Linked DNA regions of Homo sapiens: all the other regions are reported to be linked to region 3. Evidence: microRNA targets listed by miRTarBase, many of them from high-throughput screens and not tested one by one. Region 3 holds a microRNA gene; each other region holds the end of a gene's coding sequence. Distances are from middle to middle.
What was found. The annotated mature microRNA hsa-miR-935 reads CCAGUUACCGCUUCCGCUACCGC and lies in region 3 at 862-884, shown strand. An mRNA with a match to its seed (bases 2 to 7 or 8) in the 3' UTR can be bound and repressed. Matches are read on the target gene's strand: a 7mer-m8 pairs with bases 2 to 8, a 7mer-A1 pairs with bases 2 to 7 and ends in A, and an 8mer does both.

Region 1: the mRNA of RNF150 is a reported target of hsa-miR-935. The part of its 3' UTR that is shown has no 7-base or 8-base seed match.
Region 2: the mRNA of BECN1 is a reported target of hsa-miR-935. Seed matches in the 3' UTR shown: 7mer-A1 at 634-640.
Region 4: miRTarBase lists TMEM200C as a target of hsa-miR-935. Seed matches in the 3' UTR shown: 7mer-m8 at 2,101-2,107 and 7mer-A1 at 2,266-2,272.
Region 5: miRTarBase lists THOP1 as a target of hsa-miR-935. The part of its 3' UTR that is shown has no 7-base or 8-base seed match.
Region 6: the mRNA of PTPRK is a reported target of hsa-miR-935. The part of its 3' UTR that is shown has no 7-base or 8-base seed match.

What each region holds. Positions count from the first base shown.
Region 1 is chr4:140,864,012-140,868,813 of GRCh38, reverse strand. RNF150 (ring finger protein 150) reads left to right here. Exons shown (of 7, transcript NM_020724.2): 7 at 435-4,802. The coding sequence ends at 553. Among named protein-coding and RNA genes, the nearest start is that of TBC1D9, 110 kb to the right of the region's middle.
Region 2 is chr17:42,806,269-42,811,103 of GRCh38, reverse strand. It overlaps BECN1 (beclin 1), which reads left to right. Exons shown (of 12, transcript NM_001313998.2): 12 at 176-970. The coding sequence ends at 344. It overlaps CNTD1 (cyclin N-terminal domain containing 1), which reads right to left. Exons shown (of 7, transcript NM_173478.3): 5 at 4,286-4,430; 6 at 3,240-3,336; 7 at 1-1,739. The coding sequence ends at 1,569. Among named protein-coding and RNA genes, the nearest start is that of CNTD1, 9.8 kb to the right of the region's middle.
Region 3 is chr19:53,981,501-53,986,472 of GRCh38, forward strand. It overlaps MIR935 (microRNA 935), which reads left to right and starts at 807; the gene lies at 807-897. CACNG8 (calcium voltage-gated channel auxiliary subunit gamma 8) reads left to right here. Exons shown (of 4, transcript NM_031895.6): 4 at 580-4,972. The coding sequence ends at 1,349.
Region 4 is chr18:5,886,773-5,891,971 of GRCh38, reverse strand. TMEM200C (transmembrane protein 200C) reads left to right here. Exons shown (of 2, transcript NM_001395400.1): 2 at 1-5,199. The coding sequence ends at 1,774. It overlaps MIR3976HG (MIR3976 host gene), which reads right to left. Exons shown (of 10, transcript NR_172496.1): 8 at 4,250-4,451; 9 at 2,799-2,892. Among named protein-coding and RNA genes, the nearest start is that of TMEM200C, 6.2 kb to the left of the region's middle. RefSeq lists an enhancer at 145-672 and a silencer at 1,190-1,409.
Region 5 is chr19:2,811,320-2,816,518 of GRCh38, forward strand. It overlaps THOP1 (thimet oligopeptidase 1), which reads left to right. Exons shown (of 13, transcript NM_003249.5): 12 at 279-415; 13 at 1,796-4,488. The coding sequence ends at 1,957. Among named protein-coding and RNA genes, the nearest start is that of ZNF554, 5.9 kb to the right of the region's middle.
Region 6 is chr6:127,965,766-127,970,964 of GRCh38, forward strand. PTPRK (protein tyrosine phosphatase receptor type K) reads right to left here. Exons shown (of 30, transcript NM_002844.4): 30 at 3,020-4,515. The coding sequence ends at 4,462. Among named protein-coding and RNA genes, the nearest start is that of PTPRK-AS1, 60 kb to the right of the region's middle.

The sequences.
Region 1 (4,802 bases), not on the chromosome of region 3:
AAGCTTTCTATATGTTAAGAATAGAAACCTTTGTGAAATTTTTTGCAAATTCCTGAGTTTGATATGCCTTTTGATTTTATTTTACATGTGTGTAACATTTTAAATGTTACGCATATGTAACAATCTTTTCTTCTGTAAATTACCCAATTACTTTTCTAAATAGAATTTCTTGCCCAACTTACGGTAGATATATATTTTCCTACTAAGACATATCCTTAGATGATATATTTTATTATTCTAGTTTCTTTTGTTTGCATTTAACTTTTTGGCCCATGTGAGATGAGGCTTTAACTAGAGTTTTTACAGAATACCCAATTTTTCTAATACCTTCTCTTGGCCTTTAAAGAAATGTTATTACAAGCAATTGTACTGAAATAAGCAGCATGCAAAGACATAGCTCGGTGTTCACTGTGAACTTTGCTTTCTCCTCCCAGGTGAGCAGGAGCCAGCTGTAAGCAGTGATTCTGACATTTCCTTGATCATGGCAATGGAGGTTGGACTGTCTGATGTAGAACTTTCCACTGACCAGGACTGTGAAGAAGTGAAATCTTGAAACGACAAATCCAGAAGCAAAGAGATAGTAGGACCCAAGGGAAAGGAAGGGAAGAGTGCTCCAAGACTTGGACCAGGCACACACACACCTCCAGATCACCTTGGCAACTCCAGGGCGCTCCGTTCAAGAATGCTGACGAAAAGCAATATCCAAAGTCTTGTCAATCAGGATGCAGTTTCTCCATCGGTATGGCAGTCTGTGGCCTTGGCAGCTGGGAAGTTGAAAGCTGATTTCCACTCCTATGTCCATGTAGACATACACTTCAGAAGCTCCTAAAACAGAGACTGAAAGGCCACCTTTAGGATTTCTTAGTTTCATTTCAATTCTTTCCATGTCTCATCATTCTTGTTTTTGGCATGTTGTTTGATTTCTTTGGCAATTTTTTTAAAGATTATTTGTAGTTTACTTTCCATCTATTCCTTTGTTTTTCCTTTGATGCACTCCAGCTTTTGTATAGGTTTCTGTTTAGAAGCACCAGTTCCTGCTATGATCAGTTTGTATTCCATCTCTGAGATATGTGGTCTTGACCTCCCAGCATGAAGTGTGCATGGCTTTGAGAAGTGCCTCAGCACCCTGAAATGGACTAAGGCCAGCTTTCATTAAGAATCTAAGTTCTTCTAAGTGGGCCTTTAAAAACCCCAGCTGCCAGAGACCCCAACACTAAGCCCTAAATCTGCTGAGGCCACTGCTGGTTATTTTAAGCCACATCACACTTGCTTCCACTTGCCGGGCTTGATTAAGGGCCCACGTGACATGAGAAGGGAGCTCTAGGGAAGCCGTTTCATTCTTCTGGGTCTTACAGTCTTTGGCTGAAATTCTGAACTCAGAAGTCCCCTCCAAGGCATCCAGTCTTTGGTGGTTGTAGGGCTGGTTTTAAAACCAGATACCACATTTTCTTCCTATTGAAAACAAAATGCCAGTTGCATTGGTTTCCCCTGGGCTAGAACAGTTTTTTTCTTACCTCTGTAAGTGGGTTCTGTAAAAAATGGAGGCTTTAGAGAAAAGCCAATCATTTTTAAGTCCAATGGCAAACATAGTGGGGGCTGCAGTAGCACCTAGCTTTTACCTTAATTTCGACACACTTCTGTTGAATCTCACCAGACCATGTGGGAGGATTTAGGTGAATCCCTAGCAGATTGCTTCCCAGGGCTCCCTGAGTGTGTCCAGATACCAAGTGAGGAATGAGGTGTGATTTGCTGTATCATTTGAACCAAAAAGTATGCAGCATGAGAATTTGCTAGATCGTTTATCCTGACTGAAATAGACAAAGTAAGAGGGAAAGGAAAAGAGGTATCAAGTAAATACTGAAACCCAATGGTGTTTTTAAACTGTTTCTGTTTTTATTCATCTTTTGTAACTATGACAGAAATGTGCTATTTTTTCAGTGGGCAATTTTGTAATATATTCAGACTATCCAGATACAGAGATGACTAAGGTCATTGATAGCGTCTCTGAACAATCAGACGGATCACCTTATCTCTACACAGCTGGCAAACACCAGGCTGCGGCTTGGATTAACCAGGAAAGAAAGCTTTTCTCACTGAGTTGTTTTTATGTATTGATGGGGACTTTTCCACCTCATTAGACTAATACTCATTCAAAAAGAGTTTGGTTCTGCTGTAAATCCTTGCCGCCTGCTGAAACATGGTGTGCAGGTCAACGGAGAATACTAGCTGCTCCTTTTTCACCACCTTTACCAATTTCCTATTTGATGGTTTGTAAGTAGACAGTAAGGCAAGGCAGATGATTATTACCCTCAGAAAGGTTGCATCTCCCTAGGAGTCCAATGCTTCCTGTAATGAAATCCACTCTCTATGTGTGGGAAAAGAGGCAGGGAGGAATGAAGAGAGCTCTGAATCGAGAATCCTAGATGAACCACACGCTTTACTAAGCCTCGGCTTCTTCATCTATAATGTGAAGGGTTTAATAACATGAGTCCCCAAGCTCCTCTGGCTGTGGGACCACAGATGAGTCTTTCAGAGGCAGGATCCATTTTTGCAGATAGCTATGACTTGTGGCAATCAGGCTTCGTAGCTTGGGGAGGTAGAGTTACTTGACATGTATCATGTAATAACAGCCTTTGAGACTTGGCACAACTATGGTGCTGAGAATGAAAATCTAAATGATTGAAGTTTTAAGTCCAAGTAGGAGTTGGTTTGTTTTGCCTTGTTTAAAAATTGCTGTTAGTCACAGAGTTTGCAATCTCTGGATACCTTCAAATCCTAGCTCTCACTGTGGGATTCTTGATCTCAGAGGTGTTTATTTTTCACAGTCAGCATAGGCTTGCGCCACTGACTCCTCCTTCAGTCGGCTTTGCCCAAAACAAATTTTAGTATTACTGGTATTAAGTTTAGTCCAGTGGAATTAGAAGGATAATTCAATAGCAACAGAAATATAAATTATATTCCATTCCCAGAGAGAGAATGCGCTTTGGATTGTTTAGTCCTCTGATTAACGAGTATTTTCTCTTCCTGCCAAGAACTAGGTGAATCAGGAATTGATTGCATATGCAAGCCCTGGCCACAGCTGCACTTACAGGATGCCTCATAGACGATGAGGGGTCTGAAAGGCCAACCCGAGGCTGGCAGATCTGACCCCAAGGAGGTCCTGCTGCAAACCCCCTGAGCCTTTGCCATTCACTACTTACCAAAGTTTGTTTCTGGAGGATTTTCCTGTAGCTTTGATAGTTTAAAAAAAAAAAAAAAAAGAAAAAAAAAAAGCTTAACCAGAAAGTTTCTCTTTCAGAAGAAAGGGGAACAGCCCTTCCTTATAGCCTTCTTTACCTCCCCCAAAGAAGAGACTGACCTGGAGACCTGGTAGTCTACAGATGAGTGTCAGAGGGTGTGTGTACCCTCTAGAAGCAAATGCAGACTGTATGTGTATTTGCAGATGTGCATTTTTCTATAGCAAGAGTCTAGACTAGCACTGTCCAACAGAAACGTAATGCAAGTCACAGACATAATTTTAAATTTTCTACTAGCCACATTTTAAAGTGTAAAAAGAAACAGGTAAAGATAATTTTAATCATGTACTTTAACCTAATATTGTTTCAACATGTCACTAATGTAAATTAATGACATGTTTTACATGCTTTTGTGTACTAAGTCTTCTAAATCCATTGTGTCTTTTACACTCACAGCACCTCTCAATTTGGATAGTCACATGTGGCTAGTGGCTGCCAATTGGACAATGCAGGTCTAGAGTTCCTCCAGTATTCTCACAAGATCCCCCGACCCTTACAAAAGAAAAGAAGGTTAAAAGCTTAATTACCTCCAGGGAGAACTGGACACCACCCAAGTCGCCTAATGAGAGGCCCAGAGGTCCATTTATTTTGTAGTGAATAAAGATTCAGGCACCCTTTTTAAAATTTCTGCTTGAACTTTCTAACCATATCATTGATGTCCATGACCATTTGTTGTTACTCCTCTGACCAGTTGTTACTTAAAACTCACACAAACCATGCTGATTTGGTGCTGAAACAAAATTATACCCCTCACTTCTATGGCAAACCCTCGGACTGATATGTGGCACTTAGGAGCCAAAGAGAACTCCAGACTGAAATCACCCAACTTTACCTCAACCCCTTCTTCTTGTTCATGGTTGGTGAAAGTCCTTTCCCAGTGTCCCCCAGTCCCACAGCTGTAGTGAAAACTCACGAACTTGGGAGGAAAGAATGAGAAATGCAAGACTTTATGTGGCCTTCTTGAAAAAGAATCTTTGGGGGCCTGTGATCATCCGGTCTCTACTTGGTGAATTATGACCACCTCCAACAGCCAGCATTTTACTCCAAGTCAGCATCCACCTGCCACCCCAATGCTATGGGGAAGAAAAGGAGCATTTGCATTCACTCAAAATAATTTAGGGTCACCTTTAGGAACTGCTACCTCCTATGTGGCTAGTCCCTTTGGAAGAGCTGAGCCCTGACTATGAATACAGCTTTTGAACATTGACTTAATCTCTAGGGTTAGATATCCCCTGCAGTGTCAACTCTGGTCATCTACACAGGGAGAGGTAGAGTCTGGAGAAGGCAGAAAATTAAAAGCGGCAAAGGTACCTACCCATTTTTGACATCACATGGTAATGATCAGAATCATGGAGGCAAAGCTCTGTCCAAAAATGTTCATTTTGTTTTGTTTTGTTTTGTTTTCTTGTTTTTAACATTTCCTTCATCCTGGTGAAATATCCTGGAAATTCATAGATCTGGGTTTGGTCATTTCAAAGCTCACCATGCCCAGTGGCCATTTCAGTT
Region 2 (4,835 bases), not on the chromosome of region 3:
TGTGACAGTCTTCTTGATTTTTGGCTTTCAAGCAAATCCAAAATACACTATCATTCCTCACCAAGTGTTCTTTAATAGATAAAATGACGTGAATGGTCCCATGATCAAGTCCCTGCCCCGAACTTACTTAACTCAGATCTCAGTTACTAATGAGTTTTGCTCTGTCCATCTGCAGGATGGATGTGGAGAAAGGCAAGATTGAAGACACAGGAGGCAGTGGCGGCTCCTATTCCATCAAAACCCAGTTTAACTCTGAGGAGCAGTGGACAAAAGCTCTCAAGTTCATGCTGACGAATCTTAAGTGGGGTCTTGCTTGGGTGTCCTCACAATTTTATAACAAATGACTTTTTTCCTTAGGGGGAGGTTTGCCTTAAAGGCTTTTAATTTTGTTTTGTTTGCAAACATGTTTTAAATTAAATTCGGGTAATATTAAACAGTACATGTTTACAATACCAAAAAAGAAAAAATCCACAAAAGCCACTTTATTTTAAAATATCATGTGACAGATACTTTCCAGAGCTACAACATGCCATCTATAGTTGCCAGCCCTGGTCAGTTTTGATTCTTAACCCCATGGACTCCTTTCCCTTTCTTCTCTGAAAAAAACTAATTTAAATTTGCTTTTCTTTTTTTTAACTGAGTTGAATTGAGATTGATGTGTTTTCACTGGATTTTTATCTCTCTCAACTTCCTGCACTTAACAATATGAAATAGAAACTTTTGTCTTTACTGAGATGAGGATATGTTTGAGATGCACAGTTGGATAATGTGGGAAAATGACATCTAAGCTTTACCTGGTCACCATGTGATGTGATCAGATGCTTGAAATTTAACACTTTTCACTTGGTTCTTATACTGAATGCCGACTCTGCTCTGTGTTAGAGATATGAAATGGTGTTTGATACTGTTTGAGACATTATGGAGAGATTTAATTATTTGTAATAAAAGATTTGCTGCAGTCTGAAAACTGCCCAGGGGTGCACTGTTGGGTTTTTCTTTAAAATAGAGTACTTTGTATTCTGGGAGAATCAAGTTCTAATGAATGCAGGTATGTGGAAATTCTGTTGAAACTTCTTTAGAGTTAGTTTTAGTTTTAAAAAAAGACTCTAGTAAAAATAGATAGCTGTTGAGGAAGCCTTGTTTGTGTAGATCTGAATAATGGAACAGAGATGTTAAACTAATTTTAAGGGGAAATAAAGGCTACCTCCTTGATGCTTAGTCAAGGTCACCCAGATAGTCTGTATTTGAGCCCCTGATTAATACTGATTGCAATGCCTGATGTTCCTCTTAATGAAATTAAGCTAAAAGTATAAATACCTTGTTAAACAAAAATGAAACAACTAATCTGTCTCCACCTAGCTTTTTAACATTTTCAGGCTGATATGACAAAAAGGGCATGCTCGTCCACCTTAACTCTCTCTGATAAAGGAAAAATAAGCATGAAATTGGCATACAAAATACAGTTCAAAAGAGACTTGGAATTTTTGTACCCTTAGTATGAAAGTAAACAGAGGGAGGCATGAGTGCAGTGACGGATGGCTGTTTATATTTGGTGGATTCAGCCTCCCTCATGTGTTAGAGGAAGCAACAGTCTTCAGAGCTCTGGCTGCCAGGTGGGGAGGAATAGACTGCTGTCTCCCCGGAGTGTTGGCTCCCACTCCGTGAGTCAGGATTGCATAAGAGAACTCAGCAATGCTTGCCAAGGCAATACCAGTGATGCTCTGCAAATGCCCCACAACCTTCAGAAATAGAGACAGATTTCTTATTACTAAAAAATCTCAACACATTTTAGTGCACAAACACACACATTACTTGGGATGTTCTCTCAAGGCAATTGTAAATTCATTTTTCTGAAATCCAGATTCCAGTGTTTGCCAATGGCCAAATTATATTAGGATACCTTTGCCCTGATAATGTTAGCATGGAAACTTTCTGGTAGACATTTCCCTCTGCTGGAGATAAGTTTTGTGAAATATAAGAATGATATTTGGGCCTTGACATTTTCATTATTTGAGAAGATATAATTGTTGGACTTTGTTTTGTTTTGAAACAGGGTCTCACTCTGTTGCCCAGGCTGCCAGGCTGCAATGCAGTGGTGTGATTTTTGGCTCACTGCAGCCTCCACCTCCTGGGCTTAAGTGATCCTCCCACTTCAGCCTCTGGAGTAGCTGGGACTACAGGCGCAAGCCACTATGTCCAGCTACTTTTGTTTATTTTTTGTAGAAATGAGGTCTCACTGTGTTGCCCAGGCTTGTCTCCAACTCCTGGGCTCAAGCAATCCTCCTGCCTTGGCCTCCCAAAATGCTGGAGTTACAGGCGTGAGCAACCCTGCCTGGCCTTTGTTGTTGTTGTTGTTTTGTTTGTTTGTTTGAGACAGGGTTTCACTCTGTCGCCCAGGCTAGAGTACAGTGGCGCAATCATGGCTCACTGCAGCCTCCAACTCCTGGGCTCAAGTGATCCTCCCATCTCAGCCAAGTAGTCCACATAGTTGTGGGACTGCAGACATGCACCACCATGCCCGGCTAATTTTTTTTTTTTTTTTTTTTTTTTAATGAGATGGGGTCTCACTCTGTCTCCCAGGTTGGAGTACAGTGGTGAAATCTTGGCTCACTGCAACCTCTACCTCCCAGGCTCAAGGGATCCTTCTACCTTGGCCTCCTGGGTAGCTGGGACCACAGGCATGTGCCACCACACCCAGCTAATTTTTTAAAATTTTTGGTAGAGACAGGTCTTTTCCATGTTGCCCAGGCTGGTCTCCAACTCCTGAGCTCAGGCAGTCCACCCACCTCGGCCTCCTAAAGTGCTGGGATTACAGGTGTGAGCCACTGCGCCCAGCCATGACTAATTTTTAATTTTTGTAGAGACAAGGTCTTGCTGTGTTGACCAGGCTGGTCTTGAACTCCTGGGCTCAAACAGTTCTCCTGCCTTGGCCTCCCAAAATCCTGGGATTACAGGCATGAGCCACCGTGCCCAGCCTGGAGTTTAACATAATAGCAGGTTATCGTTATAAAGGGAAATGAACAAGCCGAACTTGGGCCTCCATTTCCAGTTTTATAAAAGGAAAACAAGGAAACATTTCAGCCCTATCCTAGATTTTTCCCTCTCAAATCTTGCACACCCATCCTAATCCTGGGTCTTGGCACTTCTGTAGGTTGTCCTCTGTTTTCCTTTAACTGATGGGTGAAATGCTTTCTGTTAAATGAATTCTCACCATGCTGGTCCTGCTCAGTGGTGCATACCTGGCTCCAACACTCATGGTTTTGGATGAAAGCACTTGCTGCAATGATTCCTACTGCCAACAGCATGAAGTCTTCCTTCACTGAAGTAAACTTTTCCCTGAGTGATTAAAACCACATTAATTTTAAAGCTAGAATGGAACTTGATCTTCCAAATCATAGGGTCATGGAACTTCAACTATGAATTATTTGTGTCGATCATCTTGGATTTTTTAGACATGGAAGGAAATGGTCAAGTAATAGCTCATTGACCTGCTCTCCCATTCTCCCCCAACTTAACTGGGATTAACATGAGCCTTATGTCTTGAATGGTTTATAGGCCTTTTTTAGTTCTATCTGTTTCCCTAACAATTGTAACTGTGAGGCTTTTAACCAGTCTGACTTTACAGTAATCAAACACTCTTGTCCAAGTTGCAACCTTGTGACTGTTTTTTTTTTCTTTTTTCTTTTTCTGAGACGGAGTCTCTCTCTGTTGCCCAGGCTGGAGTGCAGTGGCGCCATCTCAGCTCACTGCAAGCTCCGCCTCCTGGGTTCACGCCATTCTCCTGCCTCAGCCTCCCAAGTAGCTGGGACTACAGGTGCCCGCCACCACGCCCGGCTAATTTTTTGTATTTTTAGTGGAAACGTGGTTTCACGCTGTTAGCCAGGATGGTCTCGATCTCCTGACCTCGTGATCTGCCCGCCTCAGCCTCCTGAAGTGCTGGTATTACAGGCATGAGCCACCGCGCCGGCGACTGTTTTTTTTTCTAAATGACTGACCAAAGCAGTCCAGTAACCTTGAGTTTTATGCAGCTATAAAGGAAAAACTAGGAAAGGAAATATATTAATTAAAGTAATTTAAATTTAAAAGTAAAAGCCTTTAGGGTTTTCCTGACCAGGCTCAGTCACCTGCATCCAAACAACATATTGGAACTAATGAGAACCAGGTAGCCTGAGTAGGTTATCTGGGACTGGATGCCATGCTAGGCTAATTCCATTCCCCAAGTTCTTGTGGTCTGTCTCCCCTTCCCTGTTCCTGGAAGGAGCCTACCCTATAGGAGTTGTCTTACCCTTGCAGCTGACTGGGAGTGGAGTTCTCAATTGAAGCCCTCAACAGGCTCTCATATATGGGTTCATGCAGAAGATAGACCAGGTCGAGCAGTGTCAGGCAGGTTGCATGCAGCCTCATGGCTGGAACCAAACAGCCATTGTATCCTAGATGGAGTATGGGAATGATAGGGAGAATTTATGATCATGTCTTCTCTGATCATAACCACAGTTGTGACATAAAGCTGTTGAGGTGCTAATGTGCTTCCTGGTTGCTATGTTCTACTACAAGAAACCTGTTTAGCTGGAGATCAGTTTTAAAGGACAAAGGTAGAGGTAGAGAAACCTCCATCTGTAGTATACATACAATTAGCATGTAGTTGTCCCTCTCTTATCTTATGCCTCTCTATAAAGTCACCTCTTTGATCCTGCAATAAGAGTGCCTAGTGAGTCCAAACAGAAGCCAGTTGCTAAGACCTCTGAGCTTTCCCTGACAAGTGCCGGAGGGAACACCTGTTTCAGTCATCCAGAGACACCATCAAGCTTCCTACTGTTCCTCATTGGCAGGTTCTG
Region 3 (4,972 bases):
CAGACCATCTGGGGGTGGGTCCTAGACCACCTGGGGCAGAGTTTAGACCAGCCAGGGCTGGGTTAGACCGGCAGAGGTGGGCCGTGGGCTATCTGGGGGCAGGACCTGGACCATCCAGGGCCGTGTCTGGACCATTCAGGGCAGGGCCTGGACCACCTGGGGGTGGAATTTAGACCATCTGAGGGGGTGCTTGAGCCTGCCTGGGCCAGGACCACGCATGATGCAGTCTGGACCATTGGCGGCCCTACACCACCTGGGGGATGGAGTTTCGACCAGCCGGGGTTGGATTAGACCAGCAGAGGTGAGGCCTGGGCCAGCTAAGAGTGGGCCGGAGCCCTCTGGGTTGGAGCTTAGACCAGCAGGGAAGCGCCTAGAGCATCGGGCGGGGAGTTGTGTTCACTTCTGGCAGGACTTGGGTCAGCCAGATCCAGGACGGGGGTCTAGACCACTCGGGGTGGGGCCTAGACCGCCTGGGGGTGGCGCCTGGGCCCGCTGGCGCAGGCGGGCAGGGGTCGGGGCCGGGGGCGGGGGCGGGGCCGGGGGTGGCCTCGAGGCTCCCGTCTGACCGTCCCCGCCCAGGCCTGAGCAACATCATCGGCGTGATCGTGTACATCTCCGCCAACGCGGGCGAGCCGGGCCCGAAGCGGGACGAGGAGAAGAAAAACCACTACTCGTACGGCTGGTCCTTCTACTTCGGCGGGCTGTCGTTCATCCTGGCCGAGGTGATAGGCGTGCTGGCCGTCAACATCTACATCGAGCGCAGCCGCGAGGCGCACTGCCAGTCTCGCTCGGACCTGCTCAAGGCCGGCGGGGGCGCGGGCGGCAGTGGCGGGAGCGGCCCCTCGGCCATCCTCCGTCTGCCCAGTTACCGCTTCCGCTACCGCCGCCGCTCCCGCTCTAGCTCCCGCTCCAGCGAGCCGTCGCCGTCGCGGGACGCGTCTCCCGGCGGCCCCGGGGGCCCGGGCTTTGCCTCCACGGACATCTCCATGTACACGCTCAGCCGCGACCCCTCCAAGGGCAGCGTGGCCGCGGGGCTGGCGGGGGCCGGCGGCGGCGGCGGCGGCGCCGTGGGGGCGTTCGGCGGCGCGGCCGGGGGCGCCGGGGGCGGCGGCGGAGGCGGCGGCGGGGCGGGTGCCGAGCGGGACCGCGGGGGGGCGTCCGGCTTCCTCACGCTGCACAACGCCTTCCCCAAGGAGGCGGGCGGCGGCGTCACGGTCACGGTCACCGGGCCGCCCGCCCCGCCCGCGCCCGCGCCACCCGCGCCCTCTGCGCCCGCCCCCGGGACCCTGGCCAAGGAGGCCGCCGCCTCCAACACCAACACGCTCAACAGGAAAACCACGCCTGTGTAGGGGCGCGGCGGGGGAGCCGAGGGGCGTGTCCGGGGCGCGTGCGCGGGCGCGCGTGCATCGAGGCTGCCGGGGTCGGGGGCGCCCCCGCTTTCCCCCGTGAGCGCGCTGGAGACTGCTGGGCCCGCCCCACGCCCACCCTCCCCGCCCCCCTCCCCCTCCGAAGCAGGGACCCCGAGGGAGGGGGCAGGGGAGGGAGGGGGCCGCTGTGAGGGAGCGTCGTGTTTTATTTTTTTGGGGGATCTATGGGGAGGGGGGAGGGCCATGGTGTTTTTTGCAGTTTCGAGATGTTTTCTTTTTCATGTTTTGCTGTGTGCATGGGGGGCGGGGCGGGGGGAGGGGAGGGAGGGACTCCCAGCCCAGCCCAACTCCTGGAGAGGGGCCCATAATACACGAATACATAGTTACACCCACAAACTATATATATGCCCTATATAAAGAGACACAGCGAAGGGATGCAGAAAGGCAGAAAGAAGGGTTGGACGCGGGCATTCATTCATTTTTTTCATTCATTATTCCACAAGGGCTTATTAAGCACCTACTGTGTACCAGGCACTGGTACATAAGAAGGCATTGGAGCAGGGGACACGAACGAGGCACAGAAAGGGCCTTCTCATTCATTCATTCATTACCGGCAATTTATTTGTGCGCCTTAAAAAGCTAGGCATTGTGCTCCGTGCTCAGCGTGCAGGAGGCAGGAAAACAGCCAGGGGCCCCGACGTCTCATAGAGTAAACATCTTGTGCATGAGACAGGCATTAATCGATCATGTACATACACAATAAATTACAGTTAGGCTATAGGAGAAACGAGATGCTATGAAATGCTCCATCAGGGGAGCCTAACCCAGTTGTGAGGAAGAGATTTCAGTGGACAGTGAAAGGATGAGAAGAAGCCAGCAGGGCGGAGCTGGGGCAGGAGTGTGGCAGGCAGAGCAGCACGTGCAAAGGCCCCGGGGCAGGAAGGAGCTTGCAGCGAGGGCTGAAGGGTAGTGAGGCAGGTGAGCGGGGATCAAGGTGAGGCCGGAGACACAGACAGGGCCAGATTGTGCAGGGGCTCGTAGGTCAGGAGTTCAGATTTTATTCTAGGAGTGGTGAGGGCCGTGGAACGGGTTTAAGCAGGACGCTAACGTGAATGGTGTACAAAGGGAAGACAGGAACTCGGAGGCAAGAGTAGGAGGCAGAGATGTGCTGAAATACAGCATCAAACATGGGCACGGGCCCTTGGAGCTCACACTCTTGTGGGAGGAAGCACGTAATTACACAGATGCTGAAGCATAGTCATGGTGTCTGGTGTGCAGGAGAAAGCCGTGGGGCTTAGAGACTCATGTGTCTGTCACTCGTTCATTCAGCCACTCACCCATTGCCATTTTTGGCCATCTGCTAAGGTACCAGGAAGTGTGTTAGGATCCAGATCCCCAGGGGTGAAACAGACTCTAGCCCTGCTCTCAAGCAGTTTATTGTCATCAAACACCGCCATCCAGGCAGGGCAATCGGTGCTGGAACCCGGACCACCGTGGGTACCGTGGCACACGGTGGACAGAGTGACCAACTGCCAGGAGTGAGCAGCACTTGGGGTAGGCTTCCTGGAGAATATGATGCCCATTCTGGGTCTTGAAGAAATGAGTGGGCATCTTCTGGTTGATGAAAGGCATGAGAAAGGCTTGTGGGGCCAAAGAACAACTTGGGTGAAAACGGGAGGAAGTGAACGAGCATGATGTATTGGGGTCAGTGCTAACAGTTCTGGGATGCTGATGTACAAGGTGGGGCTGGGAGATGAGGCCGGGAAAGTAGCCACAAGCTAGAGTGTAAAGGTACCAGGGTGGCCGGGCGCGGTGGCTCATGCCTGTAATCCCAGCGCTTTGGGAGGCTGAGGCTGGAGTATCACTTGAGCCCAGGAGTTTGAGACCAGCCTGGATAACATGGCGAAACCCTGTCTCTACAAAACATTAAAAAAAATTAGCCGGGCGTGGTGGAGCACACCTGTGGACACAGCTACTCAGGAGGCTGAGGGAGGAGGACCATTTGACTCCAAGAGTTCGAGGCTGCAGTGAGCTAGGATCGCGGCACTACACTCCAGCCTGAGCAACAGACTGAGATCCTGTCTCAGAAAAAAAGAGAAAAAGGTGCCTGAGTTCCAGGCAGAGGGACTGAGGCTCTTCTAAGGATGGTGAGAGAGGATGACAGCTGCGCGGGGGCAAGGGCTGTGCGGTGATTGGAGGGGATGGGTTTGAAGTTCACTGAGAAGGCAGAGGGGACAGCGCCCAGTAGGCTTCCCTTCCATATTTGCTCAGCAAGTGTTTCCTGAGGCCTCCCCCGAAGCCTTGTGCTGGGCGGTGCTGGGAGTGGAGAGGTGATTTTGATCTTGCCCTGCTCTCAAGGGGCTCCCAGTCTGGCGGGAAAACAGGCACAGACGCAGCTTGAGGAGGACGTGGCAGCGGTGGTGCCATGCTGCCAGGGGCTCTGCGTGCCCTTCTCTTGACGGAAGGGTACAGATCAGAGCTGGGTGTTCAGAATTTCTCTCCGAGGCCTGTGTGGAAGGACCAGGAAGAGAGAGACTGAAGGTCCCTAGGAAGAATTCTGCCAAGGCGGTTTCAGGAAGAGATGCTGGGAAATGTAGGAAAAGGAATACAAATCAGTGAGACGGAGAAGCGCTGAGTGAGAGAGACGGATACGTGGAGAGAAGAGGGATGCCGGAGCGGGTGTTAAAAGAGACAAATCTGGCCGGGTGCTGTGGCTCCTAATCCCAGCACTTTGGGAGACTGAGGCAGGCAGATTGAGCTCAGGAGTTCCAGACCAGCCAACATATTGAAATCTTGTCTCTACCAAAAATACAAAAATTAGCCGGGTGTGGTGGTGCACGCCTGTAGTCCCGGCTACTCAGGAGGCTGAGGTGAAAGGATCTCGCTTGGGCCTGGGAGGGTGAGGCTGCAGTGACCCGTGATGGCACCACTGCGCTCCAGCCTGGGCGAAAGAGCGAGACTCTGTCTCAAAAAAAAAAAAAAAATTGAGAGACAGCAAATATTTGCTGGAAGAGGGAGAGGGAACTGGTTAGGGGAGAATGGATTCTAGAGTCTGAAGGCCAAACAGAACGAGAGAGAGAGAGAGAGAGAGAGAAAGAATGAGGTTGAGGGTAGGCAGGAGGAAGAGCAAGATGGGGAGGGAGGGGGAGAGCAGGAGAGACCAAACTAGTAGAGTCACAGACAGAGAAAAAGTCAAAGACAGGAAGGTGATACAGAGGAGAGAGAAGAGGAAGAGGAGAGACTGACAGGTGCACAAATCAGAGAAGTCCCAGAGATAGCAGAAACACACACAGAGACAGAGATAGAGAGGGAGAGGTAAGCCGGAGACAGACTCAGAGATTCGCACAAAAAGCAACGTGGAGACTCAGAAGCAAGCGCAGCGTCAAGGAATGCTCCATTTCTGGTGTGTTGTTTTCCCAGTATTCAAGAAATATTTATTGAGTGCCAACCTGTTCTAGACCCAATCTCGGCCAGGGGATGTGGTGGCAAATAGACGGACAAGGGCCTGCTCTCCTGAAACACACTGGAGAGATAAACAATAAATAATATCATTTCAGTAACCAAAAAGTGCTTTAAAAATTAAGCTGAAGGCCGGGCGCAGTGGC
Region 4 (5,199 bases), not on the chromosome of region 3:
CAAGAAGAGGCGCAAGAACGACGTGGTGGTGGTGAAAGGCAAGCTGAAGCTGTGCTCCATCTCAGGGCTCATCGCCCTCTGTGGGATCCTGGTGCTGCTGGTGGGCATAGCCATGGCGGTGGTGGGCTACTGGCCCAAGGCCACCGGGACCAATCGGGAGGGGGGTAAGCAGCTGCCGCCTGCGGGCAGCAGCCACCGGGTCCCAACCACGGCCAACAGCAGTAGCAGTGGCAGCAAAAACCGGTCCAGGAGCCACCCTAGGGCTCCAGGGGGTGTCAACTCCAGTTCCGCGGGCGCGCCCAGGAGCACGCCTCCAGCACGAGCCGCCTCCCCGTCCTCCTCCTCCACGTCCGTGGGCTTCTTCTTCCGCATCTTCTCTGGCTACCTGCACTCTGACAAGCTCAAGGTCTTCGGGCCCCTCATCATGGGCATCGGCATCTTCCTCTTCATCTGCGCAAACGCGGTCCTCCACGAGAACCGGGACAAGAAGACCAAAATCATCAACCTGCGGGACCTCTACTCCACCGTCATCGACGTGCACAGCCTCCGCGCCAAAGACCTGGCGGCCGCCGCGGCCGCCGCCGCGGCCGCCGCCGCCTCTTCGTCGTCGTCTGCCCCCGCCGCGGCGCCCCCCGGGGCCATACCGCTCAACGGCTTCCTCAGCTACGTGCAGTCGCGGGGCCTGGAGCTGAAGCCCGGGGGCTGCGGTGGCTCCGGGGACGCCTTCGGAGCGGCGGCGATGCTGGCCAAGGGCTCGTGGCCTCCTCACCCCGCGGCGCCGAGCGGCGGCCGCCCTCGGGGCGCCGCGTCCCCGCCGGACCTGGCCTCTTCCCCGCGCTGTCCGCGGGAGCCCCCGAGCCTGGCCGAGGCCGTGTACAGCGTCTACCGCGAGCGCTCGGGCGTGGCAGGCAGTCGCCGGGCCGCCGCTGCCACCGCCGCCGCAGCCGCTAGCAGCTGCAGCAGTCCGGCGCCCTGCAGCCCACCCGAGAGCTGGGGGCGCCAGAGCACGGCCAGCTCCTTCGTGGACTCCTCGCTGAGCGCCTTCGCGCTGCTGCCCTTGCAAGGGGGCCGCGATAGGGGCGGGGACGCGGAGGGCGCGAGCTGCAGCTGGCAGAGGCCTCCGGGGGAACGCGGCTCCCAGGAGATCCCGAGGGGCGAGCTCGACCTGAGCATGACCAACCTCCGCGGCGCAGAGGGCAGCATGCGCGGGGCGCGCCGGGAGCCGGAGGAGCCCGAGGGCGCGGTAGCGGCGCGCGCCGCCAGGGGGCAGGGCGGCCGCCTGCCCAGGACCGGCAGGTACGCGGCCTTGCGGCGCCGCAGCACCAGCGGGCTCCCGGACTACCGGGCGCCGCCGTCCCCCGAGCCCCCGCCCTCCCCGGGGAGTGCGGACCCGGACTCCAGCCCTCTGGCCAAGGCCGCCTCCCCCTCGCCACCCCTGCGGCTGGAGGGCTCGCCCCCCACCAGGCGGGACTCCGGGAGCTCCCAGTCGGATGACCCATCCAGCAGCAATAAGGGCTACACACCCCTGCGGGAGGCCGGCACCTCCACCGAGTCGGTCTTGGACGCAGTAGCTGGTCAAACGCGAGACTCTGCTGTGGCCGCCCCCGTTCTGGGTGCGGAGCAGAGCTCGCCGGAGGGTGCCAGCCAGGAGCCACCCACGGCCGAGCAACCTCAGCCGGTGCAGAGGCAGTTTACAAACAAGGAGAAACTCATCATGATTTCCAGGTCTCATGCCATAGGGGTAGAAGAAGAACTGGAAAGCACAGGCATTTAGAGAAAGGGGTGGGTTGGGGAGGAGGAAAGAGAAAATGGGAGAAACGCCCACTTGAATCAGTGCATTAACAGGTCCCTGTTTCTTTTGTGGACTGATCCGAGGACATCATTCAATATCCAAAGAGCTGCAGAATGTTATCCTTGAATTGCGTCCACAAGATTCCTGTAGATAACTCCAAGGATTTTTTTTTTTAAGCAAACTAGTCTTTTTATGTCCGATGGTGATTGTATGTTCAATGAAAACCAAATGTATTAAAAGGTCAGCAATCTAGTCCATTAGATAAAATCTTTTAATTTTCTTAGGATCAAAATAATATATTTTTGACAGTAACTGTGCACTTTACTCCGACTTTTTTTTTTAATCCCTCATTTCCCGACCCCTGTACTCTGCGCTGGTTTTGCCCACAGCTGCTTGCGAATGGCAGGCTTTTTTCTCCATTCCTTTGCGGAACATAGAAGAGTTTGTCTCAGTTCTCTTAGAATTGATGTTACTAACTGAAGTCAAAGCCAAAAGCATGAATAATTCAGGAACGAGCACTTTCCTTGCCCCACCCCACTGTGCTCACCCAATGCCCAAAAGCTTCTTCATTTTTAAACGGGTGTGTACGTTTTGCTACTAGGCTATGTGGTGGAGACTGGAGGGGACCAGGAACTAGATGGACTGTTACATTCCGAAATTTATATCAAGTACACCATGCTTTATTGAGTGTTATCACACCTGTATTGAAAATAGCATTAATATTTAAAATCTTTTTTAATAAAAGAAGTTTCCGAACAAACAGTTAAACATAATATTGCCTCATTTGCCTTGGAGCTAGCTCATCTGGTACCTCTGAAATATTTTGCTGTGACACTGCTACCAGGACTGTTGTGATCTTCCCCCAAAGTACTCAGCACCATTGTCGCATGTCCAGCGTATTTTTAAGCTTAAAATGTAGGGTAGTATTTAACATTTGGGAATTTCTCTTTCAAATAGAATGAAACGTTAAGTAAATAGTAATATGCCTATGATACTTCTCATTTACCTGCAAGTATTAATTTGCAGAGCACCAGGCTTAATATTCTCTTCCCATCCTCTTGGCTATCACTGATTATAAGTTAATGGTCTTGATCCATGGCCTACATAGACAAAAAGATAATGTTTTAATAATTTGGTAGATTGTTTACACTTGATGTCATTAAAAGTGAATTAGTTAATTTTCAAGACCAGGAGACAAGATGTCTTCATTTTGGTCTCCTTGGGCAAAGCGCTAGTCCTGTAGACAGAGTGCAGATTCCGAGCTGAGATTGGACCCAGCTGTTGGCATCTCCTAGCTGTGAGGCCTTGTACAAGTCACAAACTCTGAGTCTCAGTCATCTTTCTGTAAAATGAAGAGAACCAGACATATCTCATGGAGCTATGAGAGGAATAGAACAGGGTCAGGGTCAGAGGAGGGTTTATATGTGTGGAGTTTACCAGAACCCTTGGCCCACAGGATGTATTCAATAGATGGGGGTTATTGTAATTATTATTACCATTGTAATATATTGCTGAATGCATAGTGTAGAAGAATGGACCTTCCTTGAACTTGAGCTCAAGAAAGTCTAGTCTGAAATCTGGGATATCCACCTATTATCTGTATAACCTTAGACAAATCACTTAATCCCTCTGGGCCTCTGGTAGATGATATAATCTCTATGATCTTCAGCTCTAAAAGCCTTACTTAAATTCAGGCTCTTGTCCTGGATGTAATCATATCACATTTGTACCTACAACTTGGCAAAGAGTGAATATACGTCGTCAATTACCATTAGCTCAACATTCTGTAATACACTTTAAAAGGGCCTAATTTATTCTCAGATTGGATCTGCATTAAACCGGTAACTCACTTTAAGGCTGTAGATTAATATATTGGGCTCTTCTATAAAGCAAAAGTGAGTTTGCACTAAGGAGTGACATGCAAGTGTAATAAGACCTCAAGGTAGTGTTAAATTTCAACAGTCTCAATTGCTTTATCACACTTCCAAAGTAAATGTCAAACTTCCTTAGGTTTTCTTCTCCATTACCTTGGGTACTGGGTAATTTATATACTGAGATAGCGTGTTACTTCAAGGGGAAAACAGGTTCTGGTGTTCTACAATACTGTTTCCAGTCCTCGGAGAATGCACTGTAAATGTTACATTTATCAAATGCTAAGTGACATTTAGCAAATAATAAAGCTAATACCTCTTAGCTTAACTAAGGAGGGGTGGACAGAATACTGTTTATATCTCACAAACTTAGTTCCATATCAGATAATATCTAACTTAACCATTGAACAATTTAACTAGATTTTTTTTCTGAAGATAGACAAAGATGAGCTCAATTTTCCAAATCTTGGGAGGAGCCTGTGATTTCTTTAGACTTCAGAGGAAGTGTATAAGTGTAGTAATTCACAATCGTAACTTTCATAGGAGCAGAAATCTGCAATAATGCTAATTTTCACTCAGTACTTACTGTGGGTTCAGTACTATTGTAGGAGCTTGGTACACATGATCTCAGTGAATCCTCACAGCAACTCTATTGAAGTAGGATCATTCTTACCGCTGTTTTGCAGAGAAAGACACTGAGGTCAGAAAGATGGAATTGTTGTCCAGGGTTACACAGCTGGTAAATGGTGGATCCAGGATTTACACAGAGTTTGGAAGATTAGGTAGACCTGTCGGCAGATGCTGAGTTGAAATGGGCATTTCTGGAGACCATCAAAATACTTTATATATTCTTTATTTCCTGCCAGATCCCTTTCCAGACCATTCTTAGAGAAATGCAGAAAATTGTCAGAATGCACAGTCAGATAAAAAGCTGGAGTTCGTAAATCTTCAGACGGGCATGAACAAGTTTTTTTGTAAGTGACTTTTCAGGGGTTTTTGTACACAATAAATAAGAGTATTTGAAAGGGCCTTATAGATGATAGAATCCCCCCACCTTTAATTTATAAATGAGGTTTCTAAGATTTAGAAAGATGGAACAATTTATTCTGAGACAAACAGCAGTGGCAGGACTCGAATGTTAAATTAAAATAATTGCAACAATTGGTGTGATGGTATTTTTTCCCTGAATTTCTGTCATGTACCAGCTGGGTGACCATGGACAAGTTACATAGTCTCTCTGTGTCTCAATTTCCTTTTCCACACTATAGGAATAATAATGTCCCTATCTTACAGGACTGGAGTAAAGATTAAATGAACTAATATTTGTGTAAAGTGCTTATAATGGGCTTGGAACATAGAGAGTATTATACAAAGGTTTGTTCCTTTTATTTAAAATAGAATCAACTGCTAAACAATTACTTCATATGACCTTCCTTTTTATTAATAGAATAATTTTAGGCTTAAAAATCTAAAGTATAAGGCAACATAGCATAGTGGCTCAAAGTGTGACTTAGGGGGTTATATAACATTATAACT
Region 5 (5,199 bases), 51 Mb from region 3:
ATTGACGCAGTCTCAAAATGGGGACTTTGCTCTGTGGCAGCTGACAGCCCCGTTAAATGAGCTCCTGTCCTTCCAGGAGAGGGGGCGGAGACTTGTGGCCCTCGCTTTGTGGCTGACTCTGGTTCTAGAAGTATCCAGCTGGTCTCGGCCCTCACCGTGATCCTCCAGCTTCTCCCTGTTCCGGGCAGGGGTCTCAGGAGTCTGGCTGGTTGTCTTCTCCTGGAGGAGGAGCATGGGGTGGGGGCTACAGCGTGAACCCTGCCATGTGTCCGCCCCAGGAACCAACATGCCTGCAACCTTCGGCCATCTGGCAGGTGGCTACGACGCCCAGTACTACGGGTACCTGTGGAGCGAGGTGTATTCCATGGACATGTTCCACACGCGCTTCAAGCAGGAGGGTGTCCTGAACAGCAAGGTACGCGGGGACTGGGGACAGGGAGGGCGTCCTGAACGGCAAGGTACGCGGGGACTGGGGACAGGGAGGGCGTCCTGAATGGCAAGGTACGCGGGGACTGGGGACAGGGAGGGCGTCCTGAACGGCAAGGTACGCGGGGACTGGGGACAGGGAGGGCGTCCTCAACAGCAGGGTGGGGCCGAGAAAAGCACACCTTTGGCCTGGGCCTGGGTGTGCCGGGTGAGCCATCCCGGCCGAGGCACCTGCTGGTCTTGGTGCGGTGCTGCCCACAGCTCCTCCCTGGGCCCTGCAGGAAGCTCCACACTGGCCCCTCAGGCCTCGGGCTGTGAGTGCTGGGAGCTCCGTGTCTTCCCATACGAGTCCTTCCGGGATCTGCGTGATCGGCCTCAGAGCCATGGGCTGAGACAGACCCTTCTCTGGAGAAGGCTTGGCGTTTGCCATTCATTTGCTCCTCCAACCTCCAGTTTCCTCACTATGAAGTGCGGCCGTTACGCCATGTGAGCCTGTGCCTCCCGCTGACTTGGTGTGACCCAGGCTCGGGACAGCCGCCAGAGTCCCTCACAAGGAACAGGTGGCTACCAGCTTTGAGGGCCGGCCCTGCCCTGCCTGGGTGCAACATTGCACTGGGCAGCCTGCAGGTACCTCGGAGCCACCAAGCAGGCACTCAGCTGCTCCCTTTATAGAGGTGCAGAGGCCAGGACCTGGGGGAGCAATGGTCCGACAAGCCCCCTGTCTTCACAGCCCAGCAGGGACCTCCCCCCTCCTGAGGCAGCCTCCAGCAGCTCCCCCTGCTGCTGAGGTGAGGGGGTCCCACCTCTGAGGACCGGCCGGGGGCTGTAGAGGTGGAGTCCCCCGGGTGGGAGCTGGGACTGTGGCTCCCTGGCTCTGCAGCCTGCAGTCCGCGCAGGCTCCTGCGGGGCTCTGGGGCGTCGGGGTCTCCTTGGTGGCTGGCACCGGCGCCTCGCAGTCTCATCTGCCTCACCTGCCCGTAGTCCCGCAGTCACAGGGCTGGGCTCAAACCTGGGCCTTTAGGGCGGCCCAGAGCGCGAGCGGCTTCCACATTGTCCAGCCGGAGGCTCAGCCACTTCTGTTCATGGGCTCAGCCTGGGATTTCAGTGGGGGCTGATGGCGGGAGCCACCTCGGGAGTTTGGGGAGTTCGGGGCTCTGCTGGCCCCTCAGTGCACACCCCCGCTCTGAGATTCTGATGAAAGGCACCTGCGCTCTCCCACCTGTGCTGATGCAGGCGGCCCCCGGGCCTCCCTGGGAACCTGGAAGGGGTTGCTCCGAGGCCCCCCTGGGCGAGGGTGTGCAGACTCCTGGGGTCCTCTGCCTTCCTCCCTGGGTCCCCACCCGGCCACAGTGCCCTGTCTCCTCGGCAGGTTGGCATGGATTACAGAAGCTGCATCCTGAGACCCGGCGGTTCCGAGGATGCCAGCGCCATGCTGAGGCGCTTCCTGGGCCGTGACCCCAAGCAGGACGCCTTCCTCCTGAGCAAGGGGCTGCAGGTCGGGGGCTGCGAGCCCGAGCCGCAGGTCTGCTGAGGCCTGGCACTGCGACTGCCCAGTCTGGCCTGCGCTCCCGCCGCCCTGGTGCCTTAGCCCCCGGCACAGGATGGGGCAGGCTCTGGCACAGTGCCTGGGACTGGCAGGGTGGCTGAGCGGCTGTCTTGCCTCTTGTCATTGTCTGTCCCCACCCGGTCGTGGCCCACCCGGCTAGAGACGGCGTCCTCAAGGCATCTGGAGGGCTTTCGTGGCTGCCAGGGCCTGGTCTTTGTTGCACTAACACGTCTCCTCTCTGGGAAACGTCCCTTGTCAGGAGACGGCTCTTCTTTGAAATGAGGTCATTAAAAGGAAACAGAAAAAGAGAGAGGCTCCCTGGCCTGGTCACTGGCTCCTGCGCTTTTTTGGTCCGAGGACGGTGGGACGGCGGGTCAGGGTCCAGCCCTCGGGCTGTTGCCACACCAGGCCCTGGATTGGGGCTCAGGTCCTTGTGGGGGCGGGGGGTGGGGGAGTAAAGGGCTGGGAACCAGTTCTGCCAGCCAGGCCGGCCTGGGGGGTCTGAGAGACTTCGGCTTCCTGCATGCTTCTCACCTGTTGTCATTCTGGAACATTCCCCCCGCCCTGCTCAGCTCTGGCCATCAAGGACCAGGCTCCACTGGTCAGAGAGTCTGGAAAGTCAGGGCAGGCCCTGTGCGCACAGGCAGCCGGGGCGGGGCTGGGGGTCAGCAGCTGCCCACCCTCTCATCCACAGGGGAAGGCCGGGCTCACTCCAGCTTCCTAGGCAGAGTCTCTGGGGGTTCCTGTTGGACACAAGTGAACCAGGTGAACCAGGGCAGCTGCTGGAAGCTCGGCCATGGCCCTCATCCTCATGGCCTTGGGGACTGCCTGTGCCTGCCCTCCCTGGCGGCCCCACTCCCCTGGCTGTGGGCAACATGGCAAAGTCTTGATCGGGGGTGCAGGGTCGGGGGGGCGCTTCCTGGACCCTCCAACAGTGCTCAGAGATGCCTCAGGGATAGCTGTCGGCTGTGTCCCCACCTCCCGAGCAAGACAAGTGGATGCTCCCCGTCTCTTCAGTCCCAGTGCTCTGATGTTTTCTCCCGCGACTGTGAGTTTCTCAGGAGCCCCCCTCGTGCCCTGGGAGCGTCCCTCCCCAGTCTTAGTCCTCCACGAAGGACGCTGGTCAGCAGAACCTGTGACCCTGCTTCCCGAGGCCTATGGGTGGCCAGACATCCGCCTCGTCCTCACCTCCATTTGGACAGGACTCCGAGGGCTGTGCCATCTGCTTCAGCCCCTCCTGTCCCATTCCCACCCAGCCCAGGTCAGTGTGGCTGTGGCCACTGCCATGGGGCCTGCTTTGCACCTTACGCACGCCTGGCTCTGCTCCATGCACCTGCTTCTGTGTCTTTCCAACTCTGGGGGCTAAGGGGTGAGTCTTGTCTTTGCAGAGCTGGACGGCACAGCCTGTGGCCAGGAGGGTTATGCCAGCGAGGCGGGAATCCATAAGTGGGAACACCACAGTGGTCACGTTTCAGATACTCACAGCTCAGAGCGGGTCCCATAGCTTGCACCTGAAGCCCCAACTACTCAGGAGGCTGAGGCGGAAGGATTGCTTGAGCCCAGGAGGGCAAGGCCAGCCTGGGCAACGTGGCAAGACCCCATCTCTAAAAAAAATAAGTTCGGTGGGTGTGGGGCCAGTGCCTGTGGTCTGTTTTTTGGGAGGCTGAGGCAGGAGGATCGCTTGAGCCTAGGAGGTCAAGGCTGCAGTAAGCCGTGATCCCACCACTGCACTGCAGCCTGGGCAACAGAGCAAGACTGTCTCTAAAATAACAATAATAATAAAATACCTGGGGTTCAGAAAAGAAAAGCTGGAAGGCAAAGCCGACCGCACTGGGCAGAGGTGGAGATGGCAAGTCTGGGGGCTCCCTCATCTTCCCCTGCCCCGAGCCCTCAGGTGGCCTCCACCTGGTCCCCAGCGAAGTCCCAGTTGTGCAAGAGCACCCCAGCTGGGCCCTGGGCCATCACAGCCTTGTCACACACACAGCCTGGCCCATCACAGCAGAGCTGGGGTCACAGCCTTGGGCTGCTGGGCCGTGGGCGGATGGCCTGGACCATCCACACCCCACTCCCCTGGAAGTCACCAACTGGGCTTAGTTGCCGGATACCCCAGGCAGCCCCCCGCGGTGCTTCGCAAGTTGGGCCGCCTCCCCCAGCATGTCCCCTGCTCTGTGGACACCCAGGGATGTGGAGGTAGTAGCACAGAGTCTCGGTCCAGGGCCCTGTTCCCCAGGGAGCTGGGCGTCCTCAGAGCCTTCCCAAATGCCCACACCGGGGGCACCCGGGTTTCCCCAAACACTCCAGGACAGAGCGGGGGCTTTGATCACAGGGAGGGGGCTGCAGAGCTGCTGTGTCTCCTGGCTCCTCTGCCCCATGCTCCCCACTCAGGGCTCCAGCAGTGGGCTCAGAGGACAGTGTGGCATTAGCATCCCCTGCCCGTCCAGGTTGTCACTCTCCTTGGCCCCTTGCTGCTCCCCAGTGGAAAAAAAAGGGGGAAATAAAGAATCGTAAAAAATACATATATTGGAACCTGTATGTTTTGTGATCTTCGCAACATTTCTCTGTAAACTCTCCTTCTTTAGGTTTTTGACAAAACCTGAATGCAGAAGTGGTCTCCTCCCCAGTCACCCGTCCAGCCCCCGTGGGCTGTCCCCAGGTGTCCCTGGCTCTTCATCCCCACAATCCTGTCCCTGCCTGTGCTGCCTCCAACACACGCGCCCCAGGCTTTGTGCCTGTGGTTCCATTTTGGTCCTTCACGAAGTATTTCTCCAACCGAGAAGCTGCTGGGATCTCTGTGGTTGGTGGCCCCGAGCGGCCCCACTCCTCTCAAGGATGATACCAGTGGGGCCGTTGTAGGCAGGCTCCATGCTGCGGGCTGGGCAGGCGCGGTCGTCCCCATCCTCCCCATGGGACTTGTGTTACTGTCCCCGTGTCCCAGATGGGGCATCTCAGGAGCAGAGCCAGCGTCCCCCCTCCTCTCCCCAATGAGCAACACCGGCTGAAGGCCACAGCCTTGAAAGGGACAGGGGCCTCACTCTCCAGGGCTGTCCCTACTTCAAGGGACAAAATGTTTTGTGAAACTCAGTTCGATTCTGAGATTAATGGCCAGCTTGCGGGTGGTTTGAGCCCTGGGCTGGAAGGCAGGAGGTCTGGGTTCAAGTCTCCAGGTAGACAGGGCCCAGGGATGAGTTCCAGCATGGGCTAGGGGCCAGGGTGCTGCCCACGTGGCT
Region 6 (5,199 bases), not on the chromosome of region 3:
ATATATATCTACCACATTTCCATTGATTTTTGGCCAATTTATATTCCAAAAAGCCACTTATAGCTACTTAAAGTAGCCTTTCCTTTTAGTTTCAGAGAGATATAATAATACTCGAATACTCTGCAGACTGCTTGAACAGACTGGAGTTGTGAACAAATTCAGGTATCTCTTCTACTCCAAACCTCCCTAAGCTGTGAGGCTATGAAATAATATGTAAGTAGAAATGATTAAGGGAGGCACAGCCAGCCGCCTTCTAGCTTCACTCAGTGTTGAATGAAATGGCACATAGACTCTACACTAAGTAGGGGTGTTTACTAAAACACTGAAATAAGTCTAGGAAGGATGTGGAGTCTCTGCCTATGGAAACATTTTATAAGGTAAATATTACATATTATACCCAGGGTATGTGATGGATTATTGATTTCTGGCTATTTTGTTATTAAAAAGAATGCTTGCCAAAGTGCACAGAAATTAAATATAAATGCTGAATTGTCACTCCCCTATGAAAGTTAGGCAAATCTCTGGGCATGGTGGCTCACACCTGTAATCCCAGCACTTTGGGAGGCCAAGACGGGTGGATCCCCTGATGTCAGGAGTTCAAGACCAGCCTGGCCAACATGGCAAACCCCCGTCTCTGCTAAAAATACAAAAATTAGTGGGACGCGGTGGCAGGTGCCTGTAATCCCAGCTACTTGGGAGGCTGGGGCAGGAGAATCGCCTGAACCTGGGAGGTGGAGGTTGCAGTGAGCCAAGATCGCACCATTGCACTCCAGCCTGGGCGACAAAAGCGAAACTCCATCTCAAAAAAAAAAAAAAAGGCAAATCTCAAAGGTGGTCTTCCAAAGCTAGTAGACTGCCCACCTCATATTTTCAGTTGAGCTACAATCAGCCCCTGCTCTTCTGCATTTTAGTATTTACTGGTATCTATTAAGTTCAGGTGCTAAGAACCTCTTGCCTTACACCATTTTCTGGAAGGAGAGTAGATATGAGAAGGAGCAGCCTTTGGTGTCTGACTTCCAAGTTTACGACATGAATGCCTGGAACTCAAGAGATTCTTGTGGTAATATGAATACTGAATGAGCACATCAGCACATCAGTGTGGAGATAAACATGCAGCCTCTCCATGTCCAGGCAAAAAATATCTCCCCTTTTGTTTATCTTTCAATGTCAGAGATCATTTGGCTGCAACACAGCAACACCTTTATCTAAAGACTGATGGTTAATACTGAGTGTCAACTTGATTGGATTGAAGGATACAAAGTATTAATCCTGGGTGTGTCTATGTGTTGCCAAAAGAGGTTAACATTTGAGTCAGTGGGCTGGGGAAGGCAGATCCACCCTTAATCTGGTGGGGACAATCTAATCAGCTGCCAGCAAATATAAAGCAGGCAGAAAAACGTGAAAAGGCAAGACTGGCCTAATCTCCCTGCCTACATCTTTCGCCTGTGCTGGATGCTTCCTGCCCTTGAACATCTGACTCCAAGTTCTTCCATTTTGAAACTCAGACTGGCTCTCCTCCTCCTCAAGCTTGCAGACAGCCTATTGTGGGACCTTGTGATCATGTAAGTTAACACTTAATAAACTCCTTTATATATTTATCCTATTAGTTCTGTCTCTCTAGAGAATCCTGACTAATACAGACTCCAAAGCCTAAGTATTAGAAAAGGCTAGGAGACAACTCTAAGAGAGATAACACTTATTTCCAAGAATGGTTTTAAAACTCAAAAATTCCCAGTTGCTGGTGTGTCTCTGGCCCACACACTTCCAACATCTCCTTAGTGATAGTTATAGAAAGGGGGTCTGTAAAATTCAACGACATGACAGCCATTTAAGGAATAACTAAATTAGGAATAGGAAGCCCTAAACTATGAAAAGCATGTAGAGCTGTGCCAGTGGAAGAGGACCCCACCCCCAGCCAGCACCAGGACATCCGCCCAGAGGGACATGGCTGGGGGTGTCGGAGAACATAGTCATGCACAAGACTACTTAGGGAGCCCTTAAGGGTATAAGATATGAGCTTTTGAATATGAGTTTTGAGAGCAACAGGCAACCCCTCTTCCATTGTCTCCTGATCAAGTGGCTTCTGTGGTGCCCAAACAAAGCAAGCATGATATTTCAATTTCCTGTTACAAAGAAAGAGAACTCTTGTTCTTTGAATTACAGAGGCTGCACAGACCTCTGAGCTTTGTGGACAGTTGTGCTCATGATAACTTTGCTGGTGTGTGGTGCAGTCATGAGCAGAAATGAAGTCAGTGTCACACAGTGAAACAGAATCTTCTATAGGATAACATAATAAACATTACCGGGTAAAAAAAATCTTGGGCGAGTTTGTGGATTTTTTTTTGTTAAATGCCTCCATGTTTAAATGAAAATCAGCTTTCCTAAGAAAAGTTTGCTTTATCTGAATTTTTTAAAAAGTCACGCATTTTCTAATAAAGTACATAGCAAATGGGAGATTGAAGATGTCCATTATGATAATAATACTTTAAGAGAAAATTGATTAATGAGGAACAATAGAAATGAAATTCTAAATTTTTTTGTCTATCTTTGTGACATTTGGGAAACAATGTGTTTAGTGGTAAAGACATAGCTGCTAAGTAGGAATGAATCTGTTGACAAATCATGTACCTTCTCATTAGCTTCCATTTCATCATCTGTAAAATAGGGATCATAAGTACCATTTGTCATGTTGGTTATAAGAAAAAAGTAAGATGTGTATTATATAAATGGATAGTGACAAACACAAATGGAAAATGTGTATTACATACATGGATAAATATAGAAACCAACAAACAAAAAATGATGTCAATCTCCTGGCCTTTTCCATCTCCACCTACTGGACATTTTGGCATTAAATTAAGAAAATAAAAATAAAAGAAACTAGAGGTTGGAAATCAGTTTTACTCTTTAAATAGAGTTTTTGTGGCCTACTTGTATCAACGAGTATAGGAATAAGCTACTCATTTAGTGGTGAATGCATAAACATTAAGAGGAAAAAATGATGTGCAAACAATAACTGTTATAATTATAAAAACTTTATTTCATTCTTACTTTAATTAAATCTTTATAAGCACCATGTCATGAGCTGGCAATCTAGAAAGAGGACACTGGAATGCTTTAGTCAATTACAAACTGCAAGCTGATGATGTGAAGTTACAGCTACGTGGAGCATGTGAACAAGACCACATTTAGAAAGGTTCACTTAAGAATCCCATGACAATGCGCAAAACAGGAATCTGGCATTGATTTGTTCACACTTTTTATAGTCAGAACGCAAAGCTTGTGCATGTAAACATCAAGAGAAACATTTTATCACCCTGACAGTTTACAGTTTGCTCAAATTTGACCCTGAAAGCATATATGTTGCCATCTTGTTTTCTTGACCAGTGCTGGGCCACAGGCTGAAAAACTCCATTCCTTTAAAATTTAAATGATGCTTAAAGGCTATGTTCAACATTGTGCAAGTTGTCAGCAAGGCCTTTTAATGTGTACATTTCTCATGTATGATCACCAAACCATTATTTACCTAATGAAATTGTGAAAAACTATACATATTCAGCAAAATGTTTTAATTTGGTCCTATATTAAAAGACCCAATTGCCAAGGGATTTTACACAAATTTAATTCACAAGCATGTACACAAGAGAATCACTATAAAGAACATTGCTTCCTGGTTTATGAATAAAAAGTTTATCTTCTACTTACACTAAAACATACAAAAAATAATCTACAAAAATCGTTTACAATTGATTTTAGCTAAAGAAAAAGCTTTCTTCAGGAAAAAAAAGATGATTGTGTGGTGGTAGTATTTTAGCCATCAAAAAAGGAATGTAAGTAACCAATAAATATAATGTGCTTTCTCCATATAGACATATTTACACTTGAGTCTTTGGCTTATGTTATTTTCTAAAAAGAACTTTAAATGATCCAGCCATCATTGCACATTAAAAGAAAATAAGCCAGTTATATATATTTATATATTTATATAGAGATCTGCTACACTGGAAACATATAAAAAACGAACTTTACTATGAATTTGCACAGCTTTTCTTTTCTTCTTCCTTTTAAGATTCATCAGCTTTCATTTTAGAAAGGGAGAAAAATGCCACGTAGAAAGTATGAACTCATGCAACATGTGGTAGCTGCTCTACTGAAACCATGAGAAAAAAGGTGGCATGTTCACTGTACAAACACCAATACGTTCTCATTTCAATCTGGTTCTTATTAAATATAATTTATGTGGCATGAAATGTTGATGCTTTAATATAGTAATAAAAACTAATTCAGTCCTTTTTATTAAGATACACAACTTCATAAAAAAAATACTTTTACCTCTCAAATGTAAAAGTCTCCCACCCCCCACATTAAAATCTTTCTGCACAAGTGTAACAGGTACAACAGCTGCTGGCTCAATAGATGGACAGGTTTCTTCATGGATGCACTTTAAAGAGTCTCACCCAACTAAGATGATTCCAGGTACTCCAAAGCTACATCATAGCAGAAACGGTATTGCTCCTGAAAGATGTCAAAACACAAAGAGTGAGAAAACTTAAGAAAGAGACTAATGTTGAATAACAGTTACCAAATGAAACTTGACAACCAATTTAGATTACTCAAGGATTACAATTTATTTTTTCTATATATGAGATTAATATCTAGGCATACATATTTTATACTTGAGTCTAATGATCCATTTAAGAAAAAGGAAATTTATCTTAAAAAGACATTTTATCTTTGCCGCATATTTTCTATCAATTTTTTAAATATCTATAATTTTTTATCTGTTTATAATAGTAATATTTGATCATTACAGAACAATTCTGTACAAATATAAAGAATATACACATTCTGAACAAACATAAAGAATGAGAAAAAGAGCTATAATTCTATCATCAGAAGAAATTGTTAAAATATCACCTTAGTTTGCCTCAGTTCTTTTTGTGCATGGTTGAAATAATTATCTTAGAATAAATATAACTATGTATATTTCAAAATATAATTTTAAATGTAACTTTTAAAATTTAACATTGTTACAATTCTTTTTCCATGTTATTTAACATCTTTTAATACCACATAAAAATCAAATATATGTATTGTTTGACTATTAAGTTGCTTTTATTTTTTTCTCTATTTTATAATGCTACAGTGATAAACTGCAAATGTTTTTCTCCATATATTTCAGATGATTTCCTTGAGAAA